Linked DNA regions of Homo sapiens. The protein of the gene in region 2 purifies or fractionates together with the protein of the main gene of each other region. This does not show direct contact. Each region holds a gene or a part of one and is shown on either strand. Other genes may lie near its edges.

What was found.
Region 1: the proteins of PCP4 (region 2) and ATP12A purify together in Homo sapiens (affinity purification with mass spectrometry; one large-scale study listed by BioGRID and IntAct). This does not show direct contact.
Region 3: the proteins of PCP4 (region 2) and SCPEP1 purify together in Homo sapiens (affinity purification with mass spectrometry; one large-scale study listed by BioGRID and IntAct). This does not show direct contact.

The regions. Positions count from the first base shown.
Region 1 is NC_000013.11:24,693,892-24,697,543, forward strand, and holds part of ATP12A (potassium-transporting ATPase alpha chain 2), read left to right. Parts: intron 1-552; coding exon 553-687; intron 688-3,652. UniProt on the Homo sapiens protein: The catalytic subunit of a H(+)/K(+) ATPase and/or Na(+)/K(+) ATPase pump which transports K(+) ions in exchange for Na(+) and/or H(+) ions across the apical membrane of epithelial cells.
Region 2 is NC_000021.9:39,898,384-39,902,035, reverse strand, and holds part of PCP4 (calmodulin regulator protein PCP4), read right to left. Parts: intron 3,561-3,652; coding exon 3,509-3,560; intron 1-3,508. UniProt on the Homo sapiens protein: Functions as a modulator of calcium-binding by calmodulin. Thereby, regulates calmodulin activity and the different processes it controls.
Region 3 is NC_000017.11:56,981,027-56,984,678, reverse strand, and holds part of SCPEP1 (retinoid-inducible serine carboxypeptidase precursor), read right to left. Parts: intron 3,598-3,652; coding exon 3,449-3,597; intron 1-3,448. UniProt on the Homo sapiens protein: May be involved in vascular wall and kidney homeostasis.

The DNA.
Region 1 (3,652 bases), on a different chromosome or scaffold from region 2:
TCTTTGATTCCGGTTTATCCCTCCTGGGGTCTTTCTCGAATGCCACTAATTTCCCTTAATGGTGCTTTTATAGTCACTTAACTTTGCTCAAAATCTCTCCGTACTTCCCTGTTTTCTGCTTCTCAAGTCTAGACCTCAGGCTACCTTTCAGGGCCCTCCAGGTCTTGCCACACCCTCCACATCCGCTTGTACCTTGAACACTCACGGACGAGCCTGCCCCTCATGCCCCTGCACCCGCATCCTGGTTTCTGGAAGGCTTTCTTCTCTGTGTATCGGTAACCCACCTATCTATCAAGATCTAGTTCGTAGCTGCTTTTTTCCACGAAATCTTCAGTCCTCGCAGAGGTCCAGCTTCTCCAAACATCCCTAATGCCAGTAGGTGGCACTGTTGTTTACACGCTTACCACGGTCTTGCGGCCCTCCCTGATCACGTGATAATGTCTCTCCAGCTAGGTGGTAATGGGATCAGGAGGGTGTGTTTTGGGTCCTATGCTGAGGGCATGTTGGTTCATTAAATATGTGCTGCAAATATTTTTCTTCTTTGATTCCCAGAAAGCTGTGATTGGAGATGCCTCAGAAACTGCTCTTTTAAAATTCTCAGAGGTCATTTTGGGTGATGTGATGGAAATTAGAAAAAGAAACCGCAAAGTAGCTGAAATCCCTTTTAACTCTACTAATAAATTTCAGGTGAGTTTTTCCTCACAACCGGTAATCTCTGTCATCGGCAGCATGACCTTTCTACTTGCATGCATCCTTTGCTTACCTCATATTTTGAAGGATACCTGGCTTCAAAGACAGTCGTCAGGGATACAGCACCCAGGCATCTGGTCCCCTAGGTCAAGCTCCCTTGCTGGCCTCCTTCCTAACCCTGAAGCAGGGCAGAGAAAGAAAGAAAGGCAAGGACTTCATCAGGGCCTGGCTGCTCCTATGAATGAGCCATCTCTGTCACAGGCACACACTCTCTCTCTCTCACACACACACACACACACACACACTCACACCACCACTATCAGGTACCTTCTGCCGTGAGGAGCAGCAGCCATACTCCAAAGCATAAATGCCAGGTGGGCAGCAGGGAGGCCGAACACCTGCTCCTCTCACCTCTAGTGCATCAGGCCCTCGACCTACGTGGCCTTGTTCCATGTTCGCATCCGGCCTGTGAGGTAGGACTGACGAATCCTGACTCAGAGGAGGAAGCAGGCCCTTAGAAAGTGTTGAGAGACCAGAGTCACACAGCACCCAGTGTTCCCAAGCCTGACACCAGGTCCACGATTCTTCCACCATCACACAGAGGGAGTGCGGCACAGTTCAGGCCATGGGAGCAAGCCCTGCCCTTTGGGGAGACCGGTGAGCAGCCCCTGGGGTGACAGCCCCGTCGTTTTCTGGGGCCAGCCCCTGTGCTGTGGGTGGGGGTCTCCTTTCCATCCCCTGCTCAGGTAGAAGACGGCCTTCCTTGCCTGGTTATCTCAGCAAGCAGGGCTGGCCGACAGTCAGCCATCACAGCCTCCCCATGTTAAGACAAATGACAGTTGGGAGCCCCAGGTCCCCATGCAGATGGGATTTTCCACAGAGCCCACACTGGATCTGGACTTGGGCTTTGCACAACAGTAAAGTATAGAAATGGAATAACCACAACTGTACGTGTGGAGATTTCTGGTGATTATCCACCTGTCTTAGTTCGGATGGAATTTAGGGTTAGGGAAGAACTCTTTTTTTTTTTTTTTTTTTTTTTTGAGAAGGAGTTTCACTCTTGTCACCCAGGCTGGAATGCAGTGGCACGATCTCGGCTCACTGCAACCTCCGCCTCCCAGGTATAAGCAATTCTCTTGCCTCAGCCTCCTGAGTAGCTGGGACTACAGGAATGCACCCCCTGCCCAGCTAATTTTTTTGTATTTTTAGTAGAGACAGGGTTTCACCTTGTTGGCTGGGCTGGCCTCGAACTCCTGACCTCCGGTGATCTATCCGCCTTGGCCTCCCAAAGTGCTGGGATTACAGGCGTGAGCCACCAAGCCCAGCCTAGAGAAGAACTCTTGTGTTGCAAATGTCTTCTTTGTGGATAGTGAGCCAACAGAGAATCACAGTTAGCTAAATAGACAACTAACCAGAAACATATGATGTAAAATACTCAAGCCAAGAAACCACATCTCTTACGTAAAACCAAAGTGAAAATAGAGTGCGCAACAGTCCTAAAAGACTGTTTTAGGATGAGTATTATTATACTAATAATACTAGTGATAATAGGAGCTATTCTGTGCTAATTTCCACAAGTATTAAATTATTCATTCGCACGACAACACTGTGGGGTGGCTAGAGGATGAGGAGGTTGAGGTGCCGCGCATCAGTGCACAGTGTGAAGATGGGGTTAGATGATGCCTCCATCAGCAGCAGGACTTGGAGCCCTGCTGAAGCTCCATCTCCCAAGGTAAAGGCATGCCCAGTTGCAAAAGGGAGAAAAAGCAGGTTCCATGAGGCCTCATGTACAAGTTGGAGGAGAAAGTGGCTACACAGAGTGGGACTAGAAAGGGGAGAGGGGGGCCGGGCGCGGTGGCTCACGCCTGTAATCCCAGCACTTTGGGAGGCCGAGGCGGGTGGATCATGAGGTCAGGAGATCGAGACCATCCTGGCTAACAAGGTGAAACCCCGTCTCTACTAAAAAAAAAAATACAAAAAATTAGCCGGGCGCGGTGGCGGGCGCCTGTAGTCCCAGCTACTCGGGAGGCTGAGGCAGGAGAATGGCGTGAACCCGGGAAGCGGAGCTTGCAGTGAGCCGAGATTGCGCCACTGCAGTCCGCAGTCCGGCCTGGGCGACAGAGCGAGACTCCGTCTCAAAAAAAAAAAAAAAAAAAAAAAAAAAAGAAAGGGGAGAGGGGCTGTGTGAGTTCCTGCTGAAGAGGTCGGAGGTGCTGTCTGGATGCTGTTAGGGTCATTTTATATCTACACATGAGCGGTGCTCAGCCTCACCAGGGCTTTAGATGTCATGGCCTTGGAAGGAGACGTCTCTGCGGGAAGGAAATAAAATGGAAAGCCTGTGTCTTATTGATTAGAATGGTGATGCCCCAAACACACTGGTCTGTTAAGACATTTGAAACAGTTTACGGCAAATTGGAAAATGTTTTATAAAGTTTTATATAAAGATGAATGTATTTAATTTAAAAGATTATCCTTTGTAGCCACCATGATTAAGGGCAGGGACTCTGGAGCCTGCTAGCCTGGGCTCAAATCCCAGCTCAGCCACCAGATAGCCACCTATTGCTCAGTGACCCTGAGTGAAGCATTGAACCTCTGTGCCTCAGTTTCCTCCTTTGTAAAAGGGAATAATAATAGTACCCATGGCCTTAAAGTTGTTTTGAGAATAAATAAGTCGATGTGGACAGCACTTAGAACAGTGCCTGGCACGTGGTACATACCATAAAAGTGTTTCATATTATCCCTATGTTTTAAATGTAAAAAGCCTTATCTTGGCCAGGTACAGTGGCTCACACCTGTAATCACAGCACTTTGGGAGATCGAAGAAGGCAGATTGCTTGAGCCCAGGAGTTCAAGACCAGCCTGGGCAATATACCAAGACCTTATCTCTACAAAAAAAACAAAAAACGAAATTAGCTGGGCATGGTGGCACATACCTGTAGTCCCAGCTACTTGGGAGGCTGAG
Region 2 (3,652 bases):
ACTAGGTTAAAATGGAAATTCCAAGATGATCGTCTCATATCAGGAATTTAAGAATAAAAAATTAAGTAACTTCAATTCTTTAGGAAAATGTTTTTTAGATTACTTCTAGAAGTTTTTACCCTCATCTTTCTTGGGCTGTTCCAGTTTTTGTCTTTGCTCCTTTTTAAAGGCAAAAGCACAGACTTTAAATTATAATAAAGTATCACGTACAAATATCATATATAGGCAGTTTTAGCTGAAATTAAAGTATAGCATGTTAATAATAATTTACATTTATACATTGCCATTATCCAGTAACTGTAAAATAATCTCAAATTCACTTTTCTACCCAAAAGTGACTATCATTTAATATCTAGAATTATCTAATGAAAAGCCTTATTCATAGCATCAGGAATATTTCCATTTAATTAATTTTTATACCTCCATAAAAAACCTCACTCAGTTTCCACTGGTGTGGACTGGTTTTCAGCTAAAAGAAATTCCATGTCTTTGAATGGCAGAAAATGGCATCACTTATAGTAGCCGGTAATTCCCTTTGGTGCAAAGCACTGAGCATGTCAGCATGGTTTGAAAGACCAATAGGATGTCAAGATAAAGCCAAGGGGCAGAGACATCGAACACATAGGACCTAGTCCTGGCTTCGTCACCATGTGCCTGGTCTTCAGGCTCCTCAAGGCATGACATGAGACATGCTGAGCAGTAGTTCCCAAAGTGTGAACCAGGTACCCTGGGGGGTGCCTACATCCTTTAAGGGAGCCCAAAAGATCAAAAACATTTTTGGTCTTATAAAAGATATTATTATTATAAAAGGTAAGAGTTTGATCTTAAAGGATATTATTTGCTCTTTTAAATCTCATACTCTCACAAGTGAGCAGTGGAATTTTCCATAGGCTACACATCACATGATATAACAGATTGAACACAGAAGCCAGTATGAAAATCCAGCTGTCCTCTGTCAAACCAGACTTTAAAGAGAGTTGCAGAAATGTAAAATTGCCACTTTTTACTAAATATCCTTTTCCATTTTGGAAAATATAATGACTTTTCATTTTTTAAAATGTTACTTACATTCACATGTAGTGGGTTTATTATTTTATTTTTAATAAATTAATAAGAAAAACCATTTAAAACTTTCTCCATTTTAATTTCTAATATAGGAGACAGTGTATGGCAGATACACCTGATATCAATAGCGTAACTTAAGCATACCCTGAGAATGACCCTATGGTCTAAGAAGAATGTGTGCTTGGAGTCGAGTTCCGAGCTAAGGAATCTGGGAGTGGCCAGTATAGAGATTCATTCTTATCTATGAGGAACATCTGAATTCCCAGCCCATCCCATGGGATGCAGGCCATACAGGGGATTGGGGACATTTGTTTTGGAATGAATGTAGATTGCCAAGTAGAAGTTGCTAGAGGGAGGGTGCTAAGTGAAAACGCTGTGTAAACTGCATGCTTGTTACAGGCAGCTGTGGTTCTTTTATCCAGCCCACCGCCACTGGACTGCCCTATAGGTAACTCCCCTCAATAAATCCTATGTCTTGTTCACTGGCTCCAGGTCTTTTCTTCAGTACCATCTCTATAAGAGTCAGTAGGGTTCCAGCATGACAAACATCAATAGATATCACCAACATAAACAAAAGTTCTTTGGGGTCCTCAAGAATTCTTTAAAATGGAAAGGAGTTGTGAGAACAAAAATGTTGGCTGGGTGCAGTGGCTCACACCTGTAATCCCACCACTTTGGGGGGCCGAGGCGGGTGGATCAGCTGAGTTCAGGAGTTCGAGACCAGCCTGGCCAACATGGTGAAATCCTGTCTCTACTAAAAATACAAAAATTAGCCAGGCGTGGTGGTGGGTGCCTGTAATCCCAGCTACTCAAGAGGCTGAGGCAGGAGAATCACTTGAACCCTGGAGGCAGACGTTGCAGTGAGCCGAGATTGTCCCATTGCACTCCAGCCTGGGCAACAAGAGTGAAACTCTGTCTCAAAAAAAAGTTGAGAATCACGACAATAGAGGATCTCTGAGAAGTCTTCTGACTGTAAAACTCTAATTCTAAGGTTGTGAGGTTCAGTGGAAAGGAACTTGCATGAACAGATGGCTACGAATGTATGAACTGGGAAAATCAGTGGAGGCTCACAGCGCCCTATGCTCCCCTATGGCAGGCAGTGGGTCCTTCCTCATATAGGCAACTACAATATTGCTCCTCCCTTTTAAGCCCCATCCTTTGCTCCTTCCTCTGCTTCCTGCCTTCCTTGCCAGTACCCCACACACCCACCCCAACTCACACACAGGAGACAGGAAAAGCCCTGGGCAGCAAAGGAAGAGCCATTGGCCTCATGGAAAACCTTGTTTCCTTCTTCTCCCAGCCCCCTAGCTCCAATTAGGACATTGTGGAGCCCCCACCTCTCTACTTATTGATATGATGACCCCTTTACCCAGGGAACACTGCACTCACCCTGCCCAATAGGACTGCCCTAAATGGGTGGGCATATTGGCAGGCTGCAGACGCAGAGCAACATTCTCATACTTGAGTCTTGCTCAGCTCAGACCCACCACAGAGGCTCCAAAGGGGTTGTGAGGCCCCAGGGAATTTTAACCGATGGTATTTGAGATTGGCATTATCCACAATCTGATTGATGGACACTAGCATCAATTTCATCTAGTTGGAAGCAAGAGTCATTTTCCATAAAAGGAGAGTTCATCTTGAGTTAACAGAAAGGAAGAACACCCAGAGTCTCACCTCACCGGAACTATGCTGTGGCCCTTGGTGCATACCACTGGGTATTTTTTATTATTATGCTTGTTCTTATGTCAATTGCTAAAGTTAGAGACCTGGGGTTCCAACTGGCTCTATTTCCTTCAGGATCCATGCACTTCCCATTTCTAGCTAAATCTCACCCCAATGCCAAGCCTCCATTTCCTGATCCATAAAAATATGATGATCATTCCTACAATTTAGGGTCATGGTTGAGATGGGCCCATGAAGAGGCAGGATGCAATGTTCCTGTCACTGCTATCATTTTTATTTGCTGGTGAATCGCTGCAGTGACATTCACTGACTCAGCACCTTCCAGTGGACCAGCACCGCATTGTGTGTGCTCCGGAGGGCTGAAGCAAGTTTTAAAACATCATTTCAGAAGTTGTGTACTTCACAGTTTTCAAATCACTTATCTCGTTTGATCTCATTTTATCCTCACAACAACTTGGATGATTCTCACCCACCCTAATGAAGAAAGCAGAGAACTAGATTTGCATTGTAATTACCATGTTGCCCAAAATGGGAGTCCTCCTATGGAAGGGAAACTTCTTATCACGGCATTTAGCTAGCTCAGTTTTCTTCATAAAACCAGACCTCAGTGCTCACTGTGAATTGCTAAAATCCTCTGTAAGCTGAAGCGCAGACACATATAGTAAGCTGTTTGGGATGGGATGTATGATCCGCACCTGCTGCATACCCAGGGCTGCAGATGGCAAAAGAGAAAGAACTTGGACTATTCATGTCCTCTTACCATTTTCACCAGATGTCTTGTCTTTTCCATTGGTTGCCCCAGCACCTTGTCGCTAAAGGCAAAAAATAAAAGAAAAAAGCAATTGTTATCAGATATACTCGGGATTACTTTTGTCTCTTTTATTGTTGCAAACATCTCTTGCAT
Region 3 (3,652 bases), on a different chromosome or scaffold from region 2:
TCCCTGTGGATTGATAAGGGACCCAGACTTAGAAGCAGTTTGATCAAGCAGATTCTGTGGATATAATGCAGCAGTTTCTAAAGTCCCAGGGCAGGGAGAGTTTGATACTGTGAGCATCCATGGGAGAGGGAAAGGCAGGATTCTGAACCACAGCTCGGTGTTGGGGGCAGTTCTATGGGCTCTGAGGGCTTCAGAGAAAAAAGAAACTAAGAGGCAAATAGGACAGGTTGGGTGGGCTTTCTAATTGAGACAAGAGGAGGCTCTTTGGGAGGTGGTCAGGGGAAAAGATGGTCAGTGCTTTTTCTGGACAAATCCAGGGGCCAATTGAGGTGGGGAGTCTATGAGAAGGGCCCTGTCAGCTGAGGCGAGGGAAAGGGCAGAGGACCTAGAATAAAAGGATATGGCCTCTCTGTGCACTAGCAGGATGGGTAGGAAAGGGAGATATGAAAAGACGAAATGGGGACCGGGTGCGGTGGCTCACGCCTGTAATCCCAGCACTTTGGGAGGCCAAGGCAGGCAGATCACTTGAAGTCAGGAGTTCGAGAGGAGTTCAAGTCCTCCCTGGCCAACATGGTGAAACCTTGCGTCTACTAAGAACAGGAAATTAGCCGGGTGTGGTGCGTGCGCCTGTAGTCCCAGCTACTCGGGGGGCTGAGGCACGAGAATCACTTGAACCCAAAAAGTGGAGGTTTCAGTGAGCCGAGACTGCGCCACTGCACTCCAGCCTGGGTGACAGAGCGAGACCTCATCTCAAAAAAGAAAAAGAAAAAAAAGATGAAAGGGAATACCTTGGGCAAAACAAAAGCCAGGGCAATTTGTGTAGGGAAATCTAAAGAAAAAAAAAAAAAAGACAAGATAGAGTCAGGGCTAAAGGGTAACTAGCAACGGCAAGAGGGCCCCAAAAGGGAAAGACTTTACAACACTAATGTTTTGAACCTGGACCAACCTAACTCTGATAAAATTGGAAGGCTATACATCCCCCTGATCATATGCCCTTTGTATCTTAAGATTTCCTAAGCAGTAAAAAGTTCACAAACCAGATGAAGATGTTAACCGCAGTCCTATTAAAAATAACAGAAGTAAGGGTGCAACTCAAACGTCCCCCAAATAGGGGAACAGGTTAGGCAACCATACCACATCTACTGCATGGAATGCTACACTGCCACTTAGAATCATGAACTACGAAAAATGATGTGGCAACATTGAAAAATATTTATAATGCAATATGCAATAAATTAAAGCCAGGGATCTACCCTCCAATGAAAGCTGGGTTCCTTTTTCCTAATGGACTTATTAGGATGAGGTAGGATCAAAGCAAAAGGAGAAAAGCTGGAAATCCTAGGGGTTGGGTCTTTGTGGGAGAAATCTCAGTTCTCCTCTGCTTCTGGTATGCCAGGGAGACAGCAGAAGATGACCTCTCCCTCTCCTCTCTCCTCATTCCCCTCTCCTCAAAAGGCAATGAGATGCTGGATGGAGGAAGCCTCTGTTCTACGTGAATATATCCTATTGTAAAACCTCTTTTTTGTCTAGAACTTTGGGATAGGGTGCTAGCATGGCCCAGGGCTATCCAGAAACTCTGAGACACAGTCAGTGTGTCAGTGGACCAAGTGAAACGCTTCGAAGACTTGAAAGTGTCCCTAACATAGTTTGCTAACCCACTCAGAAGACATGACTTCGATTCTCAAAGATTCCCCCGAGAGAAGTCAGCACCATGTCCTCAGTAGGCTGCTAAAATAGATCTCCTTTTCATCTAAATTAGTTATTTCTTCTGTAAGCATAATCTTTCTTCTTCTCTCTTGGGTCTCTGGGTAAGTGAAGAGCAATTTATTCTCTTCAGTTGATAAACTTCAAAGGAGAAGCCTCAGCCTCAGCACTTGTGCTTTTGTCTGCTTTGTCTCCCCTTTGTAAGCTTTCATTTGGGGGTAAAAAAAAAAAAGAAAAGTTCTGCTGATGAACAAAAAGTTTGAAAACCACCAAAATCTCCCAGATTAGACAGCCAAGGCCCAGAGGAGGAAGTATCTTGCCATGGCTCTAAGTGGCAGGTAGGCACTGAAAACCCGAGGCCCCTGACGGCAGGCCTGAGCTTGTCCACGGCCTGGCTCTCCCTGCCAATTGTGCCGCACCTTTGTCTCCAGCCACCGGAGGTGAACAGGGCTCCCCAGGCTGACATACAAGGGTTCTTTTTCTGCATTATCATAACCGCACCTGGGGCTGAGCCTCAGCTCTAGCCCTCAGAGGTGGCACAAGTGATAATTCCAAAAGAGAAAGGCCCCTCCCTGAAAACTGCTCATTTTCGCTCTATCTCACCAGAAAGTCTGCATCGACCATCCTGGGAGGCAAAACCCAGGTGGTGGGAGGCTGCTTATAAATACCAGCATTGTTGGAAGACGTCCCAGTAGCATCCTATGGAGGTGAGCACCAGGGTCCCTATTTACTGATGAGGGGCCCAGGGTTCCAGCTGGGCCATGCCTACATTTTCCAGAGGCAAGACCATGTTCCTTAATTCCTCCCTGGTGGGTGGTCTTCCGGGTGGGGGTGGGCCATCTCTGGACAGATATTTCAGAAATGCCAGAAAAGAGCCTCTGCCTGTCCCTACAAATCTTTCAACCAGCTCCCTGCCTTCCATCCTACAATCAGAGCTCAAGGTTAAAATGCAAACACACTCAGGGAAAGGGGGAAGGCGCAACAGTCACACGAAGGTGCAGAAGGCTTGTAGCAGTCCCTTCAAAAGATCAGGTTTTCTGGGGGTAAGAAGTTAGGGTTCAGGAAAGGATTGTATGGAGAGGAAGGGAGGGTCAGGCTACCTCAGGTCTTTGCTTTGGAACCTTCCATAACACTTTCTTTTCTTTTTTCTTTTGAGATAGGGTCTTGCTCTGTCGCCCAGGCTGGAGCGCAGTGGCACGATCTCAGCTCACTGCTACCTCCGCCTCCCGGGTCCAAGCAATTCTCATGCCTCAACCATCTGAGTAGCTGGGATTATAGGTATGTGCTACCATGCCTGGATAATTTTTGTATTAAATATTTTTAGTAGAGACAGCGTTTCACTATGTCGGCCAGCCTGGTCTCGAACTCCTGGCCTCGTATGATCCACCCACCTCGGCCTCCCAAAGTTCTGGGATTACAGACATGAGCCACTGTGCCCGGCCTCAAAACACTTTCTATCACTATGTATTCAAATGTATCATCAGGAGTTTTCAGTGAGCCTTCTTGTGACCGTCTGGAAATATAAAGAGACTCTGGCAAAAGGCTAGAACCCCCTCGCCCTCTGATTTAGCCTCCTTGGCTATACCATTGCCTCAGCCTACCTCAGAAGCACGCCGAACCCCCAGGTCACACTGCTGGACCAAATCCGCCCTTCACTGCTGAGACATCAGCCCAAAAAGCAAGCAAAGAGCCACACAGAGGAGACTTGGCTTTGACCTCAGGCCAGGCTGGGAAGCTACTTTACCTGAAGCCACATGACCAGGGGCAGTTCTGAGAAGTTCTTGCAGGAGTTGGTGGCATAATAGAGCCACCAGAACATGTAGGCATCCTTGCGGACCGTCACATAATCCCATACTTCCTTGCCCTCCTCTGTGGGCCAGTCAATGACAGCTCCTGAAACAGAAGTTCAATTTCACTCTCCAGAAGAGTGCCTAATGTACAGGTAAAT